Regions from separate parts of the Homo sapiens genome. Here region 2 is linked to region 1. Evidence: fine-mapped expression QTL. A gene starts in region 1. The other region holds a variant in brackets. All regions are shown on one strand. Distances are from middle to middle.

Evidence for each region.
Region 2: its variant is fine-mapped to the expression of ROM1 in ileum (CEDAR, PIP 0.95).

Annotation. Positions count from the first base shown.
Region 1 is chr11:62,609,125-62,624,951 of GRCh38, forward strand. It overlaps ROM1 (retinal outer segment membrane protein 1), which reads left to right and starts at 4,133. Exons shown (of 3, transcript NM_000327.4): 1 at 4,133-4,747; 2 at 5,134-5,380; 3 at 5,497-5,992. The coding sequence starts at 4,158. The coding sequence ends at 5,715. EML3 (EMAP like 3) reads right to left here and starts at 3,651. Exons shown (of 22, transcript NM_153265.3): 1 at 3,312-3,651; 2 at 2,301-2,472; 3 at 1,963-2,220; 4 at 1,755-1,868; 5 at 505-572; 6 at 230-353; 7 at 1-8. The coding sequence starts at 3,333. B3GAT3 (beta-1,3-glucuronyltransferase 3) reads right to left here and starts at 12,862. Exons shown (of 5, transcript NM_012200.4): 1 at 12,742-12,862; 2 at 11,373-11,547; 3 at 7,863-8,223; 4 at 7,382-7,672; 5 at 6,172-6,675. The coding sequence starts at 12,823. The coding sequence ends at 6,577. GANAB (glucosidase II alpha subunit) reads right to left here. Exons shown (of 24, transcript NM_198334.3): 24 at 15,705-15,827. RefSeq lists enhancers at 2,176-2,734, 2,735-3,294, 4,068-4,127, 7,522-8,022, 8,023-8,523 and 1 more and silencers at 3,138-4,017, 12,577-12,986, 15,391-15,716.
Region 2 is chr11:63,601,406-63,610,020 of GRCh38, forward strand. The region is part of intron 2 of PLAAT3 (phospholipase A and acyltransferase 3); the gene reads right to left. Among named protein-coding and RNA genes, the nearest start is that of PLAAT3, 8.7 kb to the right of the region's middle. RefSeq lists enhancers at 1-499, 3,742-4,507. The variant A/AACAC (reference allele first, on the strand shown) is at 5,020.

The sequences.
Region 1 (15,827 bases):
ACCCATAACTGGGGTGGAGATCACGGTCAAGGAAAGGGTTAGATCAAGGGCAGGAGGAGGAAGAGGGGAGAAAGACAGAGCTTCTGGCTGGCAGGGCCTAGAGCAGAATGATGGTAGGAGAGGATCTAGAAGGCTCCTTGTCCCCACAGACCCAGGAGGAAACTGTAAAGGTAAGAGGGGTCCCAAGGTGAGAAAGGTGGTTCTCATGGGACTGGAAGGGGCAGGATACACCCAGTCAAGGCTGAGGGTCTCTGGCGGTGGGCCACTCGGCAGCTCCTCAAGGCTGCGGATGCCAGACGGGATGTACATGGTAATGGGGCGCCCTCGAAGGAACATCTTCACTGAGATGCCTTCTACAGAGAAAAGGGGTGGTGTCAACTACCCCCTTCCAGGAAAGACAGAGCAGAACCCTACCCACCACACCTACCCAAAATAGCTCCTGGGGCTACAGCCCAAATCCTAACCCTGCCATCCAAGTTTTCCTCTCTGTCCCTCTTTACATACCCAAATTGTAATTGCTCCTCCGAGATCCAGGGCCCCCAGGGCTGGAGAGGGGGTCTTTTCCCCCACGGCTGTTGGGAAGAGAGAAAGCACAGGGATTGGGGTCAGGTCCCAAGACCTAAGCGGGGAGGGGCAGGACACAAGAAAAGAGGTCACTGCAGAAACCACAGTCACTTCTGCAAGCCTGTAGTTTGCTTCGTGAGTATCAGGGCCCTAGTAGATGGAGACTTCTAGTTCCATTTAAGAGATAAGAAGATTGAGGCTGAAGGGGCTGAGCGCACAGCACAAGGCCACAAAGCTTGGAAGAGGCAGTGCAGGGTGCCAGAGCCCTTTCTCTCCTCCAGACCACCAGGCCTCAGTCTCGCTCTGTCGCCCAGGCTGGAGTGCAGTGGTGCGACCTCAGCTCACTGCAACCTCCGCCTCCTGGGTTCAAGCAATTCTCCTGCCTTAGCCTCCCCAGTAGCTGGGATTACACGTGCGCGCCACTAGGCCCCGCTATTGACCTTTTCATTTCCCCATCCGTAAAATGGGACCAAAGGGAGTCGAGAATGTACACCAGCTCCGCCTCTCAGGGATCCGGGAGGCAAGCAAGAAAGTCCACATCTCTCCAGAGATTCCTGTCGTTAGATAACAGTAAAGTGATACTGTCTCTTCAGAGAATAAAGCACAGGCCAAGGACAGGGCTAGAATGAACATCCGGGTGTCCTGGGGCCCGTACATACTCTGAGGCAACTACATCCGGCCACTAGGATGTCCTCTTGCCCTCTAGAAGTAAGTATTAATAGATTGGTACTTGGTAGATCCAGCGGAAAGAGGGCTGAAGCTCTAGGGACAGCCGTCCATGAAAGCCATGGAAGCTTCTAGAAAAGCCTCTTGGGATCGCAGAAGGTGTGCTGTGATGTAGTGGAAAGGGTAGGGGAACTGGAGTCAGGAAGAGTTAGGTTCAAATCCTGACTCTAGCTGTGTGACCCCAGGCAAATGACTTACCCTCTCTGAGCCTGCTTCCTCACCTGTGCAATGAGCAGCATGAGACCACCTAACCCCCAAGGATGTTGTGGGGACTGACTGAGATGGAGGAGGTCGAGGGTTTAGCACAGTGCCCGGTACACAGCAGGCGCCCCAGAAGTGTTTGTTTCTTTATTCCTGTTGGGCAATCAGGTCCCCCCACCCCAACCAGGGATGTGAGGTGAGGGATATGGAAAGTCGAGAGCCTGCGCCTGGGGCGGGGTGGGTTGAGGGGAAGCCTCACCCACCTCTCTGTGCTCCCGGACCGCACTAACAGGTTGGCGGAGGAGATTGCCTTCCTGGAGAGCTTCTGCCGAGGCCGCTCTGAGGGGGATGAGGAGGAGGAAGAATTTCTTCGCGGCCTGGTGGGGGCATAGTGAAGGTCATTCCCTCCAACTGTACTCTGCAATCCTACCACCCCTCCCAGCTTCCGCCACAGGGCCACAGGACACCTACGTGTCAGCACGCTGTGGGGGCTGCAAGGGCCTGAGGATCCCCGGGGGGCCAGGGGAGCCAGCACCACTGCTGCTGCTGCCCCCTCCTTCAGATTGGGTCCCGCTAGGCTCTTCGCTGGCCCCCTGAGGGGCTGGGGGTCCATTGCTCAGGCCAGGGGGTCCAGGGGATGACTTGAGCTCCACCTCTGTCTCCGTCTGGGTGCCTCGGCTCACCAAGGAAGGGGTGCACGTGGGTGGCAGTCCTGGGGGGGCTGCAAGACTGCTGGAGAGATGTTGAATTAACCTGAAGCCCCAGAGGCCCCAAGGAGGAGGAAAAATGGGGTGTGATGACATGCATACCTGTCCCCCGGAGGAGCTGGTGTGCCAGAGCCCTGCAGGGAGGAAGGGGGCACCTGCAGCCGCAGCAGGCGAAGGGCTTCTGCCAGGGCTGCCTTTACCAGTTCCATCTCCTGCTCCTGCACCCGAAGCCGCTGGCTCAGAGACTGGAGGGCCTCCCGAGCAGGGCCGTCACCTGGGAAAAGGGCAAGAGGTACTCAGAATGTACCCATCACCTGAAGAAAGCGTAGAGGGGATTCTGTCTCCCCACAACTTTACATGTGTCCGGTAGGACTGCCCCTTTCAGGCAGCCCCAGGCTTGAATGCTCGTCCAGAGGGGAGGAGACGGTGGTAAAGGATCAAGGGCCTCCTTCTGGCAGGGCAGGCGAGAAACCTGGCAAAGCTCCCTTCCTGCTGCCGTCTCAGCCTCCGCAAAGACTGGGAGTACCATGGAGTACCGGGGGGGAAATATGGAGTACTGCCGAGGAACGTGGGAGCCACAGAGAGAGGCGCCGCACTGGTGAGGGCAGGGACCGCAGCCCTCCCCACGCGCCCCCAGCAAGCTCAGGTCTCCAGCGAAAGCTGAGTAACTGAGCCGGGGGAACACCAGGAGAGAGAACGGGGTGCGGGAATGGAGTCATACTGAGGACCCAGAGTACAAGAAAAGAGATCCAGAGTGACAGGAGAGAGTGTGAGTGGTGAGCAGAGTCACAGTGAAGGTCTCAGGGGGCAGTGGGGATCAGAAGGAAAAAGACCTGAAATACCACGAGAAGAGGCCCGGAGTAACGCAGGGGGCAGGGAAACATCGAGGGGCCCGGAGTTACGTGGGGCGTAGAATGACGCTGGGGAAGCCCGAAGTGACAGCAAGACCCAAGCAACTAGGGAGGGCGACCGGAGGAACTGTGGAGGATGCTCGGAGCCCCTGGGGCGGAGGAGCACGCGGGGACGCCTCCAGACAGCCGTCCAGCTCTGGCATAACCCGACGAGCCGGGCGCTCCGGGAAGGGGCACGCCGCCCGCCCCGCCCCGTACTCACCGGGCCCCGCGGCCCCGTCCATCCGGCCCCCGGGTTGCTCCGAGCGGCGGCGGCGGAGGAGGCGTCTAAGCCGCGGGGGCCACGGCCGGGGAGAGGGGAAGGGGAAGCACCCCGGGGCGCGCGCGAAGGGCGCCGTACCACCACCCCGAGGGGGCGCTGTCGGGCGCGGGGAAGGGGCCTGGAGGGGGCGCTGTGGGCCCGGGGCCGCAGTCTCCAGACCCCCCCGGGCCCTCGGACTCTCCCGGGGCCGCTCTCGGCTCCCGGGGGTGGGGTGGCAGGGCCGTCCGGTGCCACAGCGCCGCAGCACAAACAGGCGCCGGACGCGGAGCCGCCAGGAAGCGCGGGAGGGGGGGCGGGCCCGAGGGGGGGCCGGGCCGCTTGGTAACCCCTCCCTGTCCGGGCCTCGCCGCTCAGTACGGGGGCGGGGCTAGCCGGCTGACCCCCTGGCCTACTCCCGGCCTCCGGCTCCAGGCCCTTCCCGGATCCCCGCCCCCGGATTCCCAGGGGACGGGGAAGGGAGCGCCCGCCCCGATATCTCCGCCCCCCAGCCCCTAACCCCTCAGGGTTGAGCGGACCAACCCCACCACTTCCGCGAGGGGCAGGGGCGGGGTCACAAAACGGGCCCTCGGCCTAGGGGCGGAGTTTCTCGTAAGGGGCAAGGCCAAGGCATCTTGTATTGGGGCTGACAGGGGGGCGGGTTATTAGGGCTGAGGATGGGAGGATGCTCAGGGTATTGGGGTCAGGGTGGCATTAGCCCAGCTCAAGCCGGGCCGGGCTGACTCAGCATCCTGCCCCAGCCAGCTTCCATCCCTGACACCTCTGCATTCCCTTGGGCAGAGATGGGAGATGGCGCCGGTGTTGCCCCTGGTGCTGCCCCTGCAGCCCCGCATCCGCCTGGCACAAGGGCTCTGGCTCCTCTCCTGGCTGCTGGCGCTGGCTGGTGGCGTCATCCTCCTCTGTAGTGGGCACCTCCTGGTCCAGCTAAGGCACCTTGGCACCTTCCTGGCTCCCTCCTGTCAGTTCCCTGTCCTGCCCCAGGCTGCCCTGGCAGCGGGCGCGGTGGCTCTGGGCACAGGACTAGTGGGTGTAGGAGCCAGCCGGGCAAGTCTGAATGCAGCTCTATACCCTCCCTGGCGAGGGGTCCTGGGCCCGCTGCTGGTGGCTGGCACGGCTGGTGGGGGGGGGCTCCTGGTCGTCGGCCTCGGGCTAGCCCTGGCTTTGCCTGGGAGTCTGGATGAGGCGCTGGAGGAGGGCCTGGTGACTGCCTTGGCTCACTACAAGGACACAGAGGTGCCTGGGCACTGTCAGGCCAAAAGGCTGGTGGATGAGCTGCAACTGAGGTACCACTGCTGCGGGCGCCACGGGTACAAGGATTGGTTTGGGGTCCAGTGGGTCAGCAGCCGTTACCTGGATCCCGGTGACCGGGATGTGGCTGAGTGAGTGATTTGCGTCTCCCTTCCTCCTCCTCCTCCTCCCTGGACAGGCTCCCTCCTGCTGCCTTGAATCCCCACCTCGCTCAGAGGGGCAATAAGTAGAACATAGTGGCTGAGAGACTGGTTACAGCTCTGCCATTTATTAGCTGTGAAACCCAGGGCATGTTACCAAACCACCCTGGGCCCATTCCTTCACCTGTAAAATGGAAATAATAGTACTTATCTGATAGAGTTGTTGTGAAGATGTGAATTATGCTTGGCTGGCACATAGTACAGCAGTCAGTAAATGTTTTACTATTCTTTTTCCCTTCTGAACACCTGTGCCCTTCAGTCCCTCCCCCAGGCCTCTATCTCCAGACATCCTAACCCCTCTGTCCCTCCCTTTGCAGCCGGATCCAGAGCAATGTAGAAGGCCTATACCTGACTGATGGGGTCCCTTTCTCCTGTTGCAACCCCCACTCACCCCGGCCTTGCCTGCAAAACCGTCTTTCAGACTCCTACGCCCACCCCCTGTTCGATCCCCGACAACCCAACCAAAACCTCTGGGCCCAAGGGTGCCATGAGGTGCTGCTGGAGCACTTGCAGGACTTGGCAGGCACACTGGGTAGCATGCTGGCTGTCACCTTCCTACTGCAGGTGAGTCAGCAAAGCATCTGACACCTCCTCCCACCCGGGACTCCTCCCTGCCTCCAACCCTGGGCCTCTTGGAACCGCTGACTCTCCCTGACTCTTTCCCCTTGCTTCCCCCACAGGCTCTGGTGCTCCTTGGCCTGCGGTACCTGCAAACAGCACTGGAGGGGCTTGGAGGGGTCATTGATGCGGGAGGAGAGACCCAGGGCTATCTCTTTCCCAGTGGGCTGAAAGATATGCTGAAAACAGCATGGCTACAGGGAGGGGTTGCCTGCAGGCCAGCACCTGAGGAGGCCCCACCAGGAGAAGCACCTCCCAAGGAGGATCTATCTGAGGCCTAGAGGCCTGGAGCTTGGGGTGAGGAAGAGGGAGGGATGGACAAGTCTGAAAACCTCACAACTCCTTACCAAGGCTCCAGGTTGGGGGGATCGTAGGATTAGAGGGGCTAAGGATAGTCAGCGAGCTGGACTGGGGTAAGAAAGAAAACCAGATGTCCTAGGGCCTAGCCCTTGTAGTCAGAACCACCAGGGAACAGCAAAGAACAGAGTGATGGGAAAGTGACATGAGAAGGCCTGGAGGCTGATTCTGATATAGACTCAATAAAGTTTTTGGATGGAAGCAATTGCTTTTTCTTGTCAAGGGGATGGGGGCCTGGGAGAACTGATTTCTGTCTGATGGAGCAGCTAGGACTCCAAAGTTTGGACCCTGGCTCGACCTGTGCAGCAACAGGAGCCCACATCTGTAAGGATCAGAAAGCAAGAACCCAATGTAAGAAGCAAAGGAAAACAAGAGGCCCCTCCAGGTTGAGATTCTTTATTCTGGAGGTAGGAAGGGGGTCAGCATGCTCAGGTGGGAAGGGTCCAGCCCAGCTCCTCCAGCCCCCCAGTGCATGCCCAGCCCCAATAAGTTACCCAGTTACTCAGCTGCCCTCCCTCCTGGGTCCATCTGTCCTTCTGTTCCACCCTAGACAGGGCCAACCTGACTCAACACAAGGGCTGCTTGTCCCCAGCCTGTGGGCAGTGCCACACGGCAGGCTAGGGGAGGGGTGAAGCAGCAGGACCATGCCCTGGGCCTGGAGGGGCAGAGGGGCCACTTCTGGCTCCAAGGGTCAGGACTTGGAAAACCACATCCTGGGCAGGCCTGGGGCCCAGTCCCACAAGGTCTGTGCCTGAAAAGAGGTGGTAGTTGGGGTGGGGCCGCCATCACACCTCAATTGCTGGGTCTGAGCCCCGGCCCTGCCGCTGCAGCTGCTCCTCCTGCTTCATCTTGGGCTTCTCTGTCCGAGTATGCCACACCAGTACCTGTGCCAGGAGGGATGCAGTGAGAGCCAGGCCCAGCTGCAGCCAGGCCTCTGGGTCCCCGAGCCTGGAATGGATTCTCTAACCCTATCGACATATACAGTATAGGCTTCAAAGTGTAAAGGGCAGGGTGGAGGAAGACTTAGTGCCTCTAAAACCGGGCCTTGGCCGGGCGCGTGGCTCACGCCTGTAACCCCAGCACTTTGGGAGGCCGAGGAAGGCGGATCACGAGGTCAGGAGATTGAGACCATCCTGGCTAACACCGTGAAACCCCGTCACTACTAAAAACACAAAAAAATTAGCCGGGCGTGGTAGCGGGTGCCTGTAGTCCCAGCTACTTGGGAGGCTGAGGCAGGAGAATGGTGTGAACCCGGGAGGCGGAGCTTGCGCTAAGCCAAGATTGCGCTACTGCACTCCAGCCTGGGTGACACAGCGAGACTCTGTCTGAAAAAAAAAAAAAAACAACAAACAGGGCCTTATTCCTTCATCCTCTCTGTGCCACATGGGTTCCCAGAACTCGGGGCAGAGTGGCAGGAGACCACTTTCCCCCGCTAGTTCCCAGCTTCCCCTTCAGTAGAGTCAGCAAGGCTGATCAGAGATCTGGAGAGTCCCTCCTGGTTAAACCACCCATTCCCAGGGTCTCACTGTACCTCCCCCATCACCTGTCCATCCAAGAGCCAGGTTTCTATGCCCATCTCCATTCCCTTACCCGAGTGCAGTTGGCAGCCCGTGGCTCCAGGTCCTTGGGATCCACAAGGTGGCTCAGAAGACTGCTCTCCAGGTGGCCCCGGGGAGCGGTGGAATCAAATTGGGCATTGGGCTTATCTAACAGCAAGGGCAGGGCCACGGCAAATCCAGCCATATCCACAGGGAAGGGCCTGCTGGGCTCCCATGCTGTGTGGAAGCCCACTACCCGGCCGTCCTGTACCTGAGGGCCCTCGAATCGCAGGCCGCCCACCAGCCCCACAGGCCACACTGAGACACCACGGGTCCAGCGCATCTAACGGAGGTCGGGAGAGAAGAAACAGAGGGGTGGTCCGGGGAAGGGAGCAGCAGAAAGAGCCACCTGGCTCACTCTGCCCCACTGCTTCCAGCCCCTCACCCAGCAGCCAACGGCAACACTGCTAACCAAGGTAACGAATGAAGCTGGCCGCACCTGGTCTCTTGCCCATCCCCATCCTGGTGCTCACCTCCTCAAACAGCTCCCGGCTGTAGGTGTTGTCATCGTCAGCAAAGTAGACGACTCCTTGGGTCCCTGGTGGTGGTGGGTCCTTCTCCCCACCCACAGCACCCCCTCTGCCCCGGAGCCAGTCCAGGGCCTTGTTCCGCTGCTCGACACCACGGGGATGAACCCAGCCAGGCTCGCCCTCCCGAAGCCGCTGGGCTTTGGGCGTGAGGACCACCAGGTGTGTGAAGAGGAGGCCAGAGGCAGCCAGCAGCCCTGAGACCAGCGGGGTGGGACCCTCAGCATCCTCCACCAGCAGCCAATGCAGCCGGGGCACCAGGCTCAGTGTCTGGGACAGTCGTACCAGCTCTGCCTTCTGTACCAGCCTGCAGGGGAGAGATGCAGCACAAGGAAAAGGGGCAGGCACCATTTGCCTGCTCCAGCCAGGGCAGACAGCTTCTCCTGGGCCACTGCCTGCGTCTCCTGTGGCCCTTCCCAACCAATGCCTAAACTCCCTCTTTCTTGCCTGTCAACTTCATGCTAACACTCACCTGCCCTGTTCTTCTGGTCCATGTCCATCACCCACCTCAACTCCAGAGCTCAGGCTGTGGGAGACTATAAATTAAGGGCACAGGGCCGGGCATGGTGGCTCACACCTATAATAACACTTTGGGAGGCTGAGGCAGGTGAATTACCTGAGGTCTGGAGTTCCAGACCAGCCTGGCCAATATGGTGAAACCCCATCTCTACTAAAAAAATACAAAAATTTGCTGGGTGTAGTGGCACATGCCTGTAATCTCAGCTACTTGGGAGGCTGAGGCAGGAGAATCGCTTGAACCTGGAAGGAGGAGGTTGGAGTGAGCTGAGATCGCACCATTTCACTCCAGCCTCAGTGATAACAGCAAAACTCCATCTCAAAAAAAAAAAAAAAAGGCCGGGCATGTTGGCTCACGCCTATAATCCCAGCACTTTAGGAGGCCGAGGTGGGCGGATCACCTGAGGTTAGGAGTTCGAGACCAGCCTGCCCAACATGGCGAAGCCCCGTCTCTATTAAAAATACAAAAAATTACCCAGGCATGGTGGCAGTCACCTGTAATCCTAGCTACTCGGGAGGCTGAGGCAGAAGAATCGCTTGAACCCGGGAGGCGAAGGTTGCAGTGAGCCGAGATTGTGCCACTGCACTCCAGCCTGAGCGACAAGAGCGAAACTCTGTCTCAAAAAAAAAAAAAAAAAAAAAAAAAAACAAATTAAGGGCACAGGCTTTGGGATCAGGTAGATCTGGGTTTGAAATCCAGTTTTGTAACTTATTATGTGAGACAATTTGGGAAAATGGCTCAATCTCCCTAAGCCTCAGTTTCCTCAACTGTAAAATGGGAATAACAGTACTTTATAACAATGTTGTTTTAAAGATTAAATAAGAGCTGGGGATGGTGGCTCACACCTGTAATCCCAGCACTTTGGGAAGCTGAGGCAGGTGGATCATGAGGTCAGGAGATCGAGACCATCCTGGCTAACACGGTGAAACCCCATCTCTACTAAAAATATAAAAAATTAGCTGGGTGTGGTGGCGGGCACCTGTAGTCCCAGCTACTTGGGAGGCTGAGGCAGGAGAATGGCGTGAACCCGGGAGGCAGAGCTTGCAGTGAGCCAAGATCACGCCATTGCACCCAGCCTAGATGACAGAGCGAGACTCCATCTCAAAAAAAAAAAAAATACAAAAGTAAAATACAAAAAATTACTGGCCAGGCATGGTGGCTCACACCTGTAATCCCAGCACTTTGAGAGGCCGAAGCAGGTGGAACACGAAGTCAGGAGTTCCAGACCAGCCTGGCCAACATGGTGAAACCCCATCTCTACTAAAGATACAAAAAATTAGCCGGGTGTGGTGGCGCATGCTTGTAACCCCAGCTACTCGGGGGGCTGAGGCAGGAGAATTGCTTCAATCCGGGAGGTGGAGGTTGCAGTGAGCCGAGATCGTGCCATTGCACTCCAGCCTGGGCGACAGAGTGAGACTCCATCTCGGGAAAAAAAAAAAAAAAATTAGCCTGGTGTGGTGGTGCACGCCTGTAATCCCAGCTACTCGGGAGGCTGAGGCAGGAGAATCGCTTGAACCCGGGAGGTGGAGGTTGCAGTGAGCCAAGATCACACCACTGCACTCCAGCCTGGGCAACAGAGCAAGACTCCATCTCGGTGTTGCGGGGAGGCGGGGGGAAGAAAAAAAAAAAAGGAACAAACCAGGAATGTGGAACGTGGGGCTTGGCCTCTTCTGTACTTCTTTATCCTTCAGATCTACCTGCCTGTCCCAGGGCTGGTTGTGTGTGCATGTCGCAGGTGGGGTCTAGAGCTTCCTATGCGTGAATGGGACAGCCATCTGATTCCCAGAAGATGTATTAACACCCTTATGGCTACAGATCCAAAACCACATTCCCCAATTGGTTTTATTAGTAAAACCAATTACATTTGATTTAAAACAAAAGCAAATGTAAATCACTAAATACAGTGCCTGCTAGAGAGTAAACACACTGTAAGTAACAGCTGGTATAACTATTTCTGGACCCTAGTATGACTATCAGGCCAAGCACTTTCAACTTTTTTTTTTTTGAAATGGGCTCTCTCTGTCGCCCAGGCTGCATGATCTCCACTCACTGCAACCTCCGCCGCCCAGGATCAAGCAATCTTCCCACCTCAGCCTCCAGAGTAGCTGAGATTACAGGCATGCACCATCACGCCTAGCTAACTTTTTTTTTTTTTTTTTTTTTTTTTCAGAGACAAGAGTTTCACCATGTTGCCCAGGCTGGTCTCAAACTCCTGAGCTCAGGCGATCCGCCAGCCTCGGGCTCCCAAAGTGCTGGGATTACAGGCGTGAGCCACTGCGCCCAGACAAGCCCTTTCAACTTTAATCAGGGGGTTTTAACTTTCTTGCCAAACGGTCCCTAAGGAGAGAGAGTTAATTCACTGCCAAGCTCAAAATTTCTTTGAAATGTTATTGTTCTATCTTATAATTTGGTAGAAATTTTGTATTTTCCTTCTAGAAAAAGAACTATTTTTTTTCTTTTTTCTTTTGTTTTGTTTTGTTTTTGAGATGGAGTTTCACTCTTGTTGCCCAGGCTGGAGTGCAATAGCGCACTCTCAGCTCACTGCAACCTCCGCCTCTCAGGTTCAAGGGATTCTCCTGCCTCAGCCTCCCCAGTAGCTGGGATTATAGGCATGCGCCACCACGCCTGGCTAATTTTGTATTTTTAGTAGAGACGGGGTTTTGCCATGTTGGCCAGGCTGGTCTCGAACTCCTGACCTCAGGTGATCCACCCGCCTCGGCCTCCCAAAGTGCTGGGATTACAGGCGTGAGCCACCACACCCAGCCTGAAAAAGAACTATTTTCCCACAAATATTTGAGTATAAATGTGGTTCATTTATCCTGTCTTTGGCATGCTCTAGTTTGAGGAACAACTCCTAGCCCAGTGCCTCCCCAAACTCCTCATCATCAACTCCAACTTCTTGGACAACGCAGACCTCTTGAGTGCACCAGAGCCCATACCTGGCATAGGTGGGGGTAACAACATAGATAGTAGGCAGGGCCTCGGGTTCAGGGGGCTGGGCAGGGGCAGGGGGTGGCCGTCGGAGTTCCGCTTGCAGCTGGGAAATCCTCAGATCCTTCTGCCGTAGCTGCTCGGCTGCTGCCCGCAGGGGAGGAAGGCAGTCACATGGCTGGCCTGGTCCCAGGAAGCATTAATGGGGAAAGAAGGTGGGGACAGAGAACCGCAGAATGTTCAGCATCCCAAAGGGCCGTAATCGTCTCATTAATTCCTAACCAATGCAGGTATCACCTTATGACTTCCCTAGTAGCCTTTTCTATACCTCTCGTGTGGGAAACTCACTGCCTCAAGCAGCAGACCCTCTCCAACTTTAATAAATTCCATTGTTACAATTTTATGTTGGATATTGAGCTGATTCCATCTTTTCTACCTGCTGGTCCTAATTTTGCCTTCTGGGCTTCTAACAAGCTCATGTCCTTAAACAGGACAGTCTTTTCAGAGTCCAAGGTGCCAACTAACCATTACACTATGGAACCCCTTTTGGACAGTCTTTCAAATACCTGAGGATAACGCAGTGGCACTGTCCCTAAATCTTTGCATAAGGGGCAGGGTTCGATCCATTCCCTTGGCTAGGTGACCAAAGACTCATTGTTAAATTCATTGATTCCATCGTAGGATAAATATTTATTGAATACTCTTCCTAGGAGGCACTGCCTTAGGTGCTGGGGATACAGCAGGGAACAAAACAGACACAGTCCCTGCCCTCATCGAGCTTTCTGTTTAGTGGAGGAAGCAGACACTAAGCAAAGAAACAAATTAATAACATTATTACAAACTGTGATGGGGCCATGAAGAAAATAATCAGGATAGAGAATAAAAGGGAATGGAATTAAGAATGGTAACTTTAGCTATGGTGGTCAGGGAAGGCCTCTCTGAGGAGGTGACATTTGAGCTAAGACCTGAAGGATGAGAAAGAGGCAGCCCGGGAAACGCTGGAAGCAAAGCACCCCAAGCAGAGGGAACAAGTTAAGTGCTTGAGAGAGTAATGAGCGTGGGGTTTTCGAGAAACTGTCAGCAAGCCAGTCTGGCTGCAGCAGAGCGAGGGAGAGGGGTGGAAATGGGGTTGGGAGAGGCGGACGGCAGCAGGATCATGCGGGGCCTTGCAGGCTCTGGGAAGGAGTCTGGATTTCATCCGAGGTGCGGCGGGTAGCCGCGGTGCGTTCTATAGAGGGCAGTGCGCCTGAGGCCGCAGAGCTGTCCGGAGGGCCGAGCGGATGAATGGTGTTTGCCGGGGGTTCATCCCCAGGGCGGGATGCACGGCGGCGGGCGCCCTCGGGCCAGCCCGCCGCACCCCCGCCCCGCCCCGCTCACCGAGCTGTACCAGCGCGTAGAGGAGGCCGGCGATCGACACCAGGAAGTAGGCGAGAAACACGTTCTTCAGCTTCAGCTTCATGGCCGCGCCGCCGCCCGCGCCCGAGCAGGCGGGGTCTGCAGGGGACGAGGGGTTCCCGCCCCAAACCCCGGCTCCTGTCCGCAGGCCCCGCCCCTGCAGCGGCTCCGCCCTGCGTCCCGCCTTCCTCGCACTCCCCTACCAGCTCCCAGCTGGGGCTGGCAGCGCCGCCAGGGCACGCTTCCGGTCATCTGTGCACCCCCCCGCCTTGTAGACTTGATTTCCGGTCCCACCGCCAGGTTCCGGGAACCACCGGGTGGTGACGTCACATCCGGCGTGCCAAACTCGCGTGGCCGGCAGTCAAAACCCCGGGTAGGTGCAGAATCTCGAGTAGGTGCACGTGGTACCTACCTCGAGACCCGCCCCCTCATCACGGAATTGCCTGAGAAAGCCAGTCCTGGCGCCCAGATCTTCACCTTATTCATCCATCCAGTCAGTCACGCCACCCAATAGCTGTTGCTCAATACTTATTACACGAATGAAATCTAAGGCCCACCACATGATCCTCTGGGTGTCTCTCCTGGAATCCTCACTATAATACTTTGAGATAGATAAGAAACCAAAGTTGACAAAAATTATGTCATTGCCACAGGGCAGTTTTGTGTCCTTTCTGGACACCCGATTCCAGCATCTCTAGTGTGTCCTCTGGCCCACATTTCTTCAACAGATGACAACAGGGGTGCCAAGGAAGTGTTTTAACTACCAGGAAATTGATTGGAAATAGTTCCTGAGCTGGGGAATTCCATGAATGCATCCCCTTCCTCCTCACAAGCACAAGCCATCCTTCTCATTTTTCCTTTAAAAAAAAAAAAAAGGGCCCGGCCCAGTGGCTCATGCCTGTAATCCTGGCACTTTAGAAGCCCAGGAGTTTCAGATCAGCCTGGGCAACAAGGCAAAACCCCGTCTCTACAAAAAAAACACAAAAATTAGCTGGGTGTGATGGCGCGGGCCTACAGTCCCAGCTACTTGGGAGGCTGACATGGGAGGCTGAGGCTGTGGTGAGCCGTGATCATGCCACTGCACTCCAGCTTGGGTGACTGGGTGAGACCGTCTCAAAAAAAAAATAACCCCCCAAAAAAAGTTTCTGGTAAAATAATCTCTGACTTGTGGTCAGTCTACAAAATGAGGGGAAGGGGGAACAGTATACTTCCTGTCACTAAAACAATGGGAAACTTTAAAAAGTGCTGTTAGCAGCTGGGCGCGGTGGCTCACGCCTGTAATCCCAGCACTTTGGGAGGCCGAGACAGGCGGATCACGAGGTCAGGAGATCGAGACCATCCTGGCTAACACGGTGAAACCCCGTCTCTACTAAAAAACACAAAAAAATTAGCAGGGTGTAGTGGCGGGCGCCTGCAGTCCCAGCTACTCAGGAGGCTGAGGCAGGAGAATGGCGTGAACCCGGGAAGCAGAGCTTGCCAAGAGCCGAGATCGCACCACTGCACTCCAGCCTGGGCGACTGAGGGAGACTCCGTCTCAAAAACAAAAACAAAAACAAAAGTGCTGTTAGCTACAAGCAGAAGCCTCTAGGTTGGGCACAGTGATCGATGCCTGTAATCCCAGAACTTTAGAAGCCTGGGAGGTCAAGGCTGCAATGAGCCAGGATCATACCACAGCACTCCCCGCACTCCAGCCTGAGCAATAGAGCGAAACTATGTCTCCTCAACCCCCGACATCCTCCAAAAGTTTAGTTTGAGAAACAGCTATCTGACCTTATGGCTATTTCTATCCAAGAGGGACTCCATTGGCTCTGATCACCACTTACTAACTAGGCCTACTAAAATGTGATGATCTTGCTGGGCTCTTCTACGAAAATATCTAGCAACCCAAGGAAGGCTTGCACTTGCTCATTTTGCTGAAATCAAGGATGCTCATGCTGGCCGGGAACAGTGGCTCATCCCTGTAATCCCAGCACTTTGGAAGGCCGAGGCAGGTGGATCACTTGAGGCCAGGAGTTCGAGACAACATGGTGAAACCCCATCTCTACTAAAGATACAAAAATCAGCCAGACGTGGTAGCAGGTGCCTGTAGTCCTAGCTACTTGGGGGCTGAGGCAAGAGAATCGCTTGAACCTGGGAGGCAGAGGTTGTAGTGAGCCGAGATCACACCATTGCACTCCAGCCTGGGCAACAGTGAGACTCCATCTCAAAAAAAAAAAAAAAAAACCCAAAAAGGATGCTTATGCTGAAGCCAAATGAAAATGTAAGGCCCATGGCCAGGCATGGTGCCTCACGCCTGTAATCCCAGCACTTTGGGAGGCCAAGGCGGGCAGATCACCTGAGGTCAGGAGTTCAAGATCAGCATGGCTAACATGGCGAAACCCCATCTCTACTAAAAATACAAAAATGAAGCTGGCCATGGTCGCAGGTGCCCGTAATCCCAGCTATTAAGGAGGCTGAGGTGGGAGAACTGCCTGAACCCAGGAGGCAGAGGTTGCAACGAGCCAGGATCACACACTGTACTCCAGCCTGGCGACACTCTGTCTCAAAAAAAAAAAAAAAAAAAAAAAGACCCAGGGCGCAGTGGCTCACTCCTTTAATTCCAGCACTTTGGGAGGCCGAGGCAGGCGGATCACCTGAGGTCAGGAGTTCCAGACCAGCCTGGCCAACATGGTGAAACCCCATCTCTAATAAAAATACAAAAATTAGCTGGGCATGGTGGCGCATGCCTGTAGTCCCAGCGACTCGGGAGGTTGAGGCACGAGAACTGCTTGAACCTGGGAGGCAGAGGTTGCAATGAGCCCAGATCATGCCATTGCATTCCAGCCTGGGCAACAGAGTGAGACTCAGTCTCAAAAAAGAAAAAAAAAGGAAAGCAAATGTAAGGTCTCTAGGCTTCTAGGGTCTGTGGCTCAGGCTAGAACTAGAATCCAGACTACCACCAGTTATTTATGGTTTATCCCTTTATTGTTTCTCCTTTGATCAAAACGTGTCACAGCTGGGAACCAAGAGGAAGTAAAAAAAATACCCACAAATATTCCCCGACTCCCCATTAGTCCTCCCCCAACCCC
Region 2 (8,615 bases), 990 kb after region 1:
TTTTTGACATTCAGCCAATCTGCCTATTCTTTGTAAGGGCAAGAGATACATATTCCCAAGCTCAACACATAATTACGCTCAAGCTCAACACATAATCTCACTCAAGACAACTTCTTTTTGAAAATGAAGTAAAAGACAGTGGGCTCACCTATGGAGCCCTACACACTAGTTAGGAGCAAGGGTTTGATGGTCACTTGGCAAGTTGGATATCTTTAAAAGACACTGCGAAGTGGAAAAATGGGGATGAGCTCTGTAACAAAATGCCACTTATATAAATTAAAGATACATGGCCGGATGCAGTGGCTCACGCCTGTAATCCCAACACTTTGGGAGGCCAAGGTGGGCGGATCACCCGAGGTCAGGAGTTCAAGACCAGGCTGGCCAACATGGTGAAGCCCTGCCTCTACCAAAAATAAAAAAAATTAGCCAGACGTGGTGGCGTACGCCAGTAATCCCAGCTACTCGAGAGGCTGAGGCTGGAGAATTGCTTGAACCCAGGAGGTGGTGGGGGTTGCAGTGAGCAGAGATTGCACCATTGCATTCCAGCCTGGGTGACAAGAGCGAAACTCTGTCTCAAAAAAAAAAAAAAAAACAAAAGGAGGCCAGGCACAGTGGCTCATACCTGTAATCTCAGCACTTTGGGAGGCCGAGGCAGGCAGATCACGTGAAGTCAGAAGTTTGAGACGAGCCTGGCCAATATGGTGAAACCCCCCGTCTCTACTAAAAATACAAAAATTAGCCAGGCGTGGTGGTGCACATCTGTAATACCAGCTACTTGGGAGGCTGAGGCAGGAGAATCACTTGAACCCAGGAGGCGGAGGTTGCAGTGAGCCAAGATCGCACCACTGCCCTCCAGCCTGGGTGACAGTGAAACTGTCTCAAAAAAAAAAAAAATGATGATTAAAGGGAACAAATAAACACAGAAGACAGGGGAGTCTTGTAGGGACCAGCAAGGACAGGGCGCTATGAAATGAAGATATGAATAATTCACCTCTACCACTAAGATCCACCTAGAAAAACAAGTACTTATCATTATACACGTCACCCATCTCAGCTGAATCAAAACTAAGAATCCAAAAACTCATGTTCTAAATTTAGAAGTATGAAAACTGCAGTTCATGGGCCAAATTTGGACCTCTGCCTGCAAGAGGTCTGCCTGCAAGCTAAGAATGGTTTGTACTTTTTTTTTTTTAATGCTTGGGGGAAAAGTCAAAGGAGGAATAGTATTTTGTGACACATGAAAATTATATGAAATTCAAATTTCAGTGTCCATAATGCTTTAGTGGAACATCGCCAGGCTCATACATTTACATTGTGTCTACCCTGGCTCCTCTCTACAACAGCAGGGTTGAATAGTTGTGACAGAGACCATATAGCCTGCAAGATCTAAAATGCTTACTATGATGGCCAGGCGCAGCGGCTCATGCCTGTAATCCCAGAACTTTGGGAGGCCAAGGCAGGCAGATCACTTGAGGTCAGGAGTTCGAGATCAGCCTGGCCAACTTGGTGAAACACTGTCTCTACTAAAAATACAAAAATTAGCCACGCCTGTTGGCAGGCTCCCGTAGTCCCAGCTACTCAGGAGGCTGAGGCAGGGAGAATCGCTTGAACCCAGAGGCGGAGGTTGCAGTGAGCTGAGATCACGCCATTGCACTCCAGCCTGGGCAACAGAGCAAGACTCTATCTCAAAAAATAAATAAAATAATAAAATGTTTACTATCTGTCCATTTACAGGAAAAGTTTGCCAACCCCTATTGTAAAAGAACCTACATTGATTCCAGGAATGCTACTGCACTGCCTTGTCAGGTAGTTCTCTGTTCCAGGATCAAGGTCAGGGCCAGCAGAGTGCCTGAGAAGAGAACTGCCTCCTCCATGGCAAAGTTCAGGAGAACCCCAGCCCACACAGTGACCAAGGCTCTCCCACACAGCTCACGCAACAACAATGGCAGAGTTGAGACTCTGCACCCACGGGATTTCAGAACAAAAAGCCTTTATCTTTCCACAAAAGCAGTGTTACCAAGAGCTGCATAGCAACCATTTTCCTTAGCAAGCAAACTGAGGAGCAATTTCTGGTCTCTGAAATTCACATTGAAAAAAACAGCTTGGATGCCGGGCTTAATACCCAGGTAATGGGGTTGATCTGTGCAGCAAACCACCATGGCACACTTTTACCTTTGTGACAAACCTGCACATCCTGCACATGTACCCTGGAACTTAAAATAAAAGTTGAAGGAAAAAAAAGAAAAGAAAAAAAAACCCTAACAACCATCAAAAAGGGCTAGTTAAGTAAATTATCCTACACACACACACACACACACACACACACACACACACACACACACACACACAGACAGAGATATTAGAGAGAGTAAGGTGAATTTACATGAGCAGGCATGGAAATATTAATTGAGAAAAGCAAGTTGAAAGACATTATTATTCCATTGTTGCTTAAAATACATTTTTAGGCCGGGCACAGTGGCTCATGCCTGTAATCCCAGCACTTTGGGAGGCCAAGGTGGGTGGATCACTTGGGGTTAGGAGTTTGAGACCAGCCTGGCCAACATGGCAAAACCCTGTCTGTACTGAAAATACAAAAATTAGCTGGGCATAGTGGCACATGCCTGGAGTCCCAGCCACTCGAGAAGCTGAGGCAAGAGAATCACTTGAACCTGGGAGGTGGAGGTTGCAGTGAGCTGAGATCACGCCACTGCACTCCAGCCTTTTTCAATAATATATATACATATAATAGACTTTTTTATACATTTATACAGAAAACGTATTATACACTACATATGAGCTAAGGAAAATAACCAAGCTGTTATATATTACATACGCAACAGTGCGTGGTTGGGATTCAGAACTTTTATATTTCATGTTATATTATTTTATTGTTTGAATTTTATTAATATGAATTACTTTGACAATAAAAATGTTAAAAAGTATTTAAAGGGAAAAAATACTCATGTTGATGGACTTGCAGTTTTTAAGTTGGGAAATGTAGATATTGTCTGTTGCCAAACCTCATGAAACTGCCTCTCAATTGAAGGTATTAATTTTCTTTTTAATTATATTCTAGGCCGGGCGCGGGGGCTCACACCTGTAATCCCAGCACTTTGGGAGGCCAAGGAAGGTGGATCACTTGAAGTCAGGAGTTTGAGACCAGCCTGGCCAACATGGTGAAACCCTGTCTCTACAAAAAATACAAAAATTAGCCAGGCATGGTGGTACATGCCTGTAGTCCCAGCTACTCAGGAGGCTGAGGCTGGAGAATCGCTTGAACCTGAGAAGTGGAGCTTGCAGTGAGCCCAGATGATGCCATTGCACTCCAATCTAGGCGACAGAGCAAGACTGCCTCAAAAAAAAAAAAGTATTTTCTAGTTTTCCAAAATGTTTAAATAAGCATGTGTTCATTTTAGAACCAGAAATTGAGCTAAGACTTGACAGAATCAGTGGTAATCCATACAATCACTATCATGTAAAAATAGCAAAACAGACACAAGCAAAAAGACTAGAAAGCTCTATAACAATATCCTAATGGACATTCCCTCTGGTTTCTGGGTGCTGGGGCTAAGCGTGGTTTTTGTGATAATTTTTGCTTCCTTCTATTTTTCTATATATTCCAGGTCTTCTGCAATGAGTATCTTTTAAGTTTACAGCATGCTTCTCAACATTTTATCACGAAAAATTTTCAAACGTTCAAAATTGAGGCCGGGCGCAGTGGCTCACGCCTTGTAATCCTAGCACTTTGGGAAGCCAAGGTGGGTGGATCACCTGAGGTCAAGAGTGCGAGACCAGCCTGGCCAACATGGTGAAACTCCATCTCTATTAAAAATACAAAAAAAATGAGCTGGGCATGGTGGAGCACGCCTGTAATCTCAGCTACTCGGGAGGCTGAGGCAAGAGAATCGCTTAAACTCAGGAGGCAGAGGTTGCAGTGAGCCAAGATCACGCCATTGTACTCCAGCCTGGGCGACAAGAGCGAGACTGTCTCAAAAAACAAAACAAAACAAAGTTAAAGGAAGTTTTTTAATGAACGTCTGTATACCTGCCACACAGATTGTGCAATTATGTGACTGTATTTGCTTCATCACAAACATGTCCATCTATTCATTCCCTCTGTCCAGTGTCTTTTTTGTTCTTTGTTTTTGTTTTTGTTTTTGTTTTTGAGACGGAGTCTCGCACTGTCGCCCAGGCTGGAGTGCAGTGGCGCGATCTCGGCTCCCTGCAAGCTCCGCCTCCCGGGTTCACGCCATTCTCCTGCCTCAGCCTCCCGAGTAGCTGGGACTACAGGCGCCCGCCACCATGCCGGGCTAATTTTTTGTATTTTTAGTAGAGACAGCGTTTCACCATGTTAGCCAGGATGGTCTCGATCTCCTGACCTCGTGATCCACCCGCCTCAGACTCCCAAGGTGCTAAGATTACAGACATGAGCCACCGCGCCTGGCCCTTTGTTTGTTTGTTTGTTTAATTTAAGAACTAACGCACTGAGGGAGTCCCAAGCGATGTCAGGGCAATGACAACACAGCCGACCCGCGCTCTGTGCTCAAGTTCACGGGGTTCCTGACTCCAAGCCTGCAGTCTTGATCCGCAGCTGTGGTTCTCAGACCTGAGCCTGCACCAATTACAGAAGAGGGGGTTGCTGACATGCAGGATCACTATAGCTTTTTGGCAATTCCCCTCTTCCGCCATCAAGAGCGCGGTGTAAGCGGCCAACGACACCCCTGGAGAACCCCTTCACCTTGGGAGGATGCCCACCTCTGCTTTGGAGGGCCTAGAAACCCATACACTGGCTGAGCTGTGCGCCCGGCACCAATCTAGGCACCTGGGCTCTGTGATCAGGGCGTGGAGCTTTTTGTTCAGTAACAGGAGACAAAAGGTTTTTAAAAAAATACCTTAGTAGGCCGGCGCGGTGGCTCACGCCTGTAATCCCAGCACGCTGGGAGGCCGAGGCGGGTGGATCACCTGTCAGGAGTTCAAGACCAGCCTCGCCAACATGGCAAAACCCCGTCTCTACTATAA[A/AACAC]ACACACACACACACACACACACACACACACACACACACCTTAGTAAATAAGTAAATAATCTAGAATATGAGAAGAGATCCGAAACCAACAGAAAGAAACAAAAAGCAGAGCGGAGCAGGGTCGGGAGCTGAGCGCTGGTGGGGTGGGGGCACGGGGTGCAATAGGAATTAGAGAGTCAGGGAGACTCCCAGAGCAGCGAGCTGGAGGCGGCCTCGCCTGGAGGCCGGAGATGAGCCTTGCAGATGGCTAACACCTCCGGCAGGGGGAGCAGCCGAGCAAAGGCCCCAGCGGGGCGCGTGTCTGAGCAACAGCAAGGAGGCCAACGAGGCCGGAGTAGGCGTGCGGGGAGGGCAGAGGGTGGGAAGCGGGGGTAGAACGGAGGGTCCAAGAAAAGCAGCCGGTCCGGAAGGCAACGCAGCACCTGACAGCGCTACACCTTTGCCTCTGTCACTGGCAGGGGCCACTGCCAAGTTTAGAACCCAGGAGACTCAGGATCCAACTTGGGTTTTAAAAGGGTCCCTCTGGCTGCTCCGTTGAGAAGAGATGAGATGTAGGGTGCAAGGAGGAGGCGGGAGCCTGCTAGGAGGCAACTGCAGAGAGGGGGGATCTGGGCATGAGTAGTAATGGATGCTGGATCTCCTTTGAAGCTGCAGCCCACCGACTGTGCTGATGGAATGAGGTGGGGTGTGAAGGAAAGAGGAGTCAGATGACTCCAAGGTGTCTGGACAGAGCAACTGGGAGGCGGGATGGGGCTGTTTAGAGACAGAGTAGGCTGGGGGAGAACCAGGCACTCACGCTGGGCAGCGGGTATCCCAACGAGAGGCGGGGACACAGCGCACACATCAGTATGGAGCTAGGGGTCATGGTTTAGAATGAGGATCATCCGTGTTCCTTATGAGATCAGCTCCTCCTGAGAGTTGGAGGCAAAAGCCTGGCTGAAATGTGTTTGAGAGAATGGGGACACAGTGGCATGTGCCTGTAGTCCCAGCTACTCAGGAGGCTGAGGCTGGAGGATCACTTGAGCCAAGAGTTCAAGGCCAGCCTGGGAAACATGTGAGACCCCATCTCTAAAATTTAAAAAATAATAATAATAATAATAAAGAAAAGAGAGAGAATGGGAGAAGATGAACTGGAGGTGATGTCAAAGAGAGCACCTGAGCACCTGAGATTTTTGTTTCGGTCTTGAAAGATGAGGGAAACTTGTATGTGGTAGAGACATAATTTAAACCCAGATCTAAGGACATCCAAATCCTACACACCGTGCTGCAATCATAGAAGCTGGTGGGGAGGAAGTAGCCTTTATGGAGATGTACGGAGAGAGGCAAGCAGGAGATAAGGAGGAGGCGGAAGGAGAGGGCAGGCAGGGCAGGGGCTTCCACTGTGGTGAGTGGGAATCTCAAGGTGCTTTTGGGGTTTGGTCAGAAGCAGGGTTCTTGGGGTGGAGCCCAAGCCTGGAATTTTTTTTAAAGTTCCCAGGTGGGCCGGGCACAGTGGCTCACGCCTGTAATCCCAGCACTTTGGGAGGCCGAGGCAGGCAGATCACGAGGTCAGGAGATCGAGACCATCCTGGCTAACACAGTGAAACCCCGTCTCTACTAAAAATATAAAAAATTAGGCGTAGTGGCACGTGCCTGTAGTCCCAGCTACTCGGGAGGCTGAGGCAGGAGAATTGCTTGAACCCGGGAGGCAGAGGTCGCAGTGAGCCGAGATCGTGCCACTGCACTCCAGCCTGGGCGACAGAGCAAGACTCCATCTCAAATTAATTAATTAATTAATTAAAACAAAGTTCCCAGGTGATTCTACTGTGTAGCCTGGAGCAAGGCCACAGGAGAAGGGTTGTCTAAAAGGGAGAGGTGGGGAGACTGAAGAGTTGGGTTAAGATGGCAGTCATGCCTCATTTCACAGGTGGGGAAACTGGAGCTAAGGGAGGTAACATCACCTGCCCAGGGCAGCCTGAAAGTGGCAACCAGCCTCTTCCTCACCCCTGCAAAGAAAAAGAAGACAGCCCCACCCTACAGCGGACTTTACCTCTCTCCAATCAAGGTCCCTCCAGATGCACCCATGCAACTCTGACTCAGTCCAAGACCCCCGGCTCTGGCACTGTGCGGGACCAGGGAGGACAGTGAGGATGCTTTCAGAATACTTTTTAACCCAAGGGTTGAAACAAAACAAAAAGAATGTTTTTCTTTCACTCAAGGCTATGCAGGAAGCATTCCAATCCACCTACGTGCCATTTGTCTCATCAGAGTTTGAGGGTTTGGGGTTGTTTATGACATATTTCAGGACTACAAAAAATACAGAAAGTGGGATAAAGAGCATGAGTGCTCTGTTTTTAAATCAAGATGAATTTAATTTTCAGAAACAGCATAGCGATTACACACTTGGGGGCCCTGTGTTCAAATCTGAGCTCTACTACTTACTAACTATATAGTCTTGGCCAAGTTACCTAATTACTCCTAACCTCAGTTTCCTCAGCTGCAAAATGGGGATAGGTACAGCACCTGATTTGTGGGATTATCCTGAGGATGAACAGAGTTAATATCTAAAAAACACTCAGTAAATAGGGCTTGATAACGTAGGAGCCATTCACTAACTGGCAGCTTTTACTGCCACCGTTCCCCAGGATGTTGTCATTATTTTTGATTTGGAAAGGTCACAGACCGCTCTCGGACCAGGTGGAGACACTGTGGAGGCTGTGAAACCCAGAATGAAACGAATTCTCCATGTCCCAAAACCACATTCTGTGGTGAGTGTGGAAACCCCTAAACTCACCCCCTTCACTTCTGACGCCCTGGGGGGAAAGCCTGTGATAAATGGAAAGGCTAAAGTCCAAGGTGGGTACTGAGAAAAGACTTCCCAGTTGGGAGTTTTGGTGCCAAGGTTTTAGGAAAAGAAAAACCCATAAGAAGCTAGGTCTCTATTTTCTGAGGCTGCATTCCCAGAAACAGGGCCCAGCCCACCTCCGGGGGCCTCAACTGAGCCCCTCTGTACTCTATTGCTGTGTGATCTCCAAGGATCACTTCACCTCTCTGAACTTCTCTGGTAAACAGGGCTAAGACCCATCTGGCAGGGTTTGTGTAAAGAATCATTGAAATAATGGAAGTGAAAGCTGTAAAAGCACTTATGCCTACGAGAGGGTTGAGACCCCATGCCGCACGCAGGCTGGGTGAGGACAGGGAGGAGAAGGAGGCCTGGCTGCCCAGATTCCCAGCCTCGGGCAGAGAGAGAAGGAGGAGGAGGGATGAACAGCAGCTGGCCTGACACATTACACTTTCCCTTATTGCCACCCTGTGCCCAGGCCTCTTAGCAAGTGGGGGAAAGATACTGGCAGCTCTGGCAGGCACCAGGCCCAGCCTCAGCAGCCCAAAGGTCATAAACATCCTGGAAAAGGAAGCAAAACTCATCCACCCTCCCAGACTTTGACCACCAGGCCCAGGCCTATTCTCCTACAGGGCAAACCTCACCTTCTGGTGAGTCAGAACTGCCCCTCTACTCACCCCCACCACTACCACCAAGCACTACTGGGGGTTTTCACCTGTTACCTGGAATCCTTATAAGAGCCCCATGTTACCAATCGGGAAACTGAGCTCAGAGA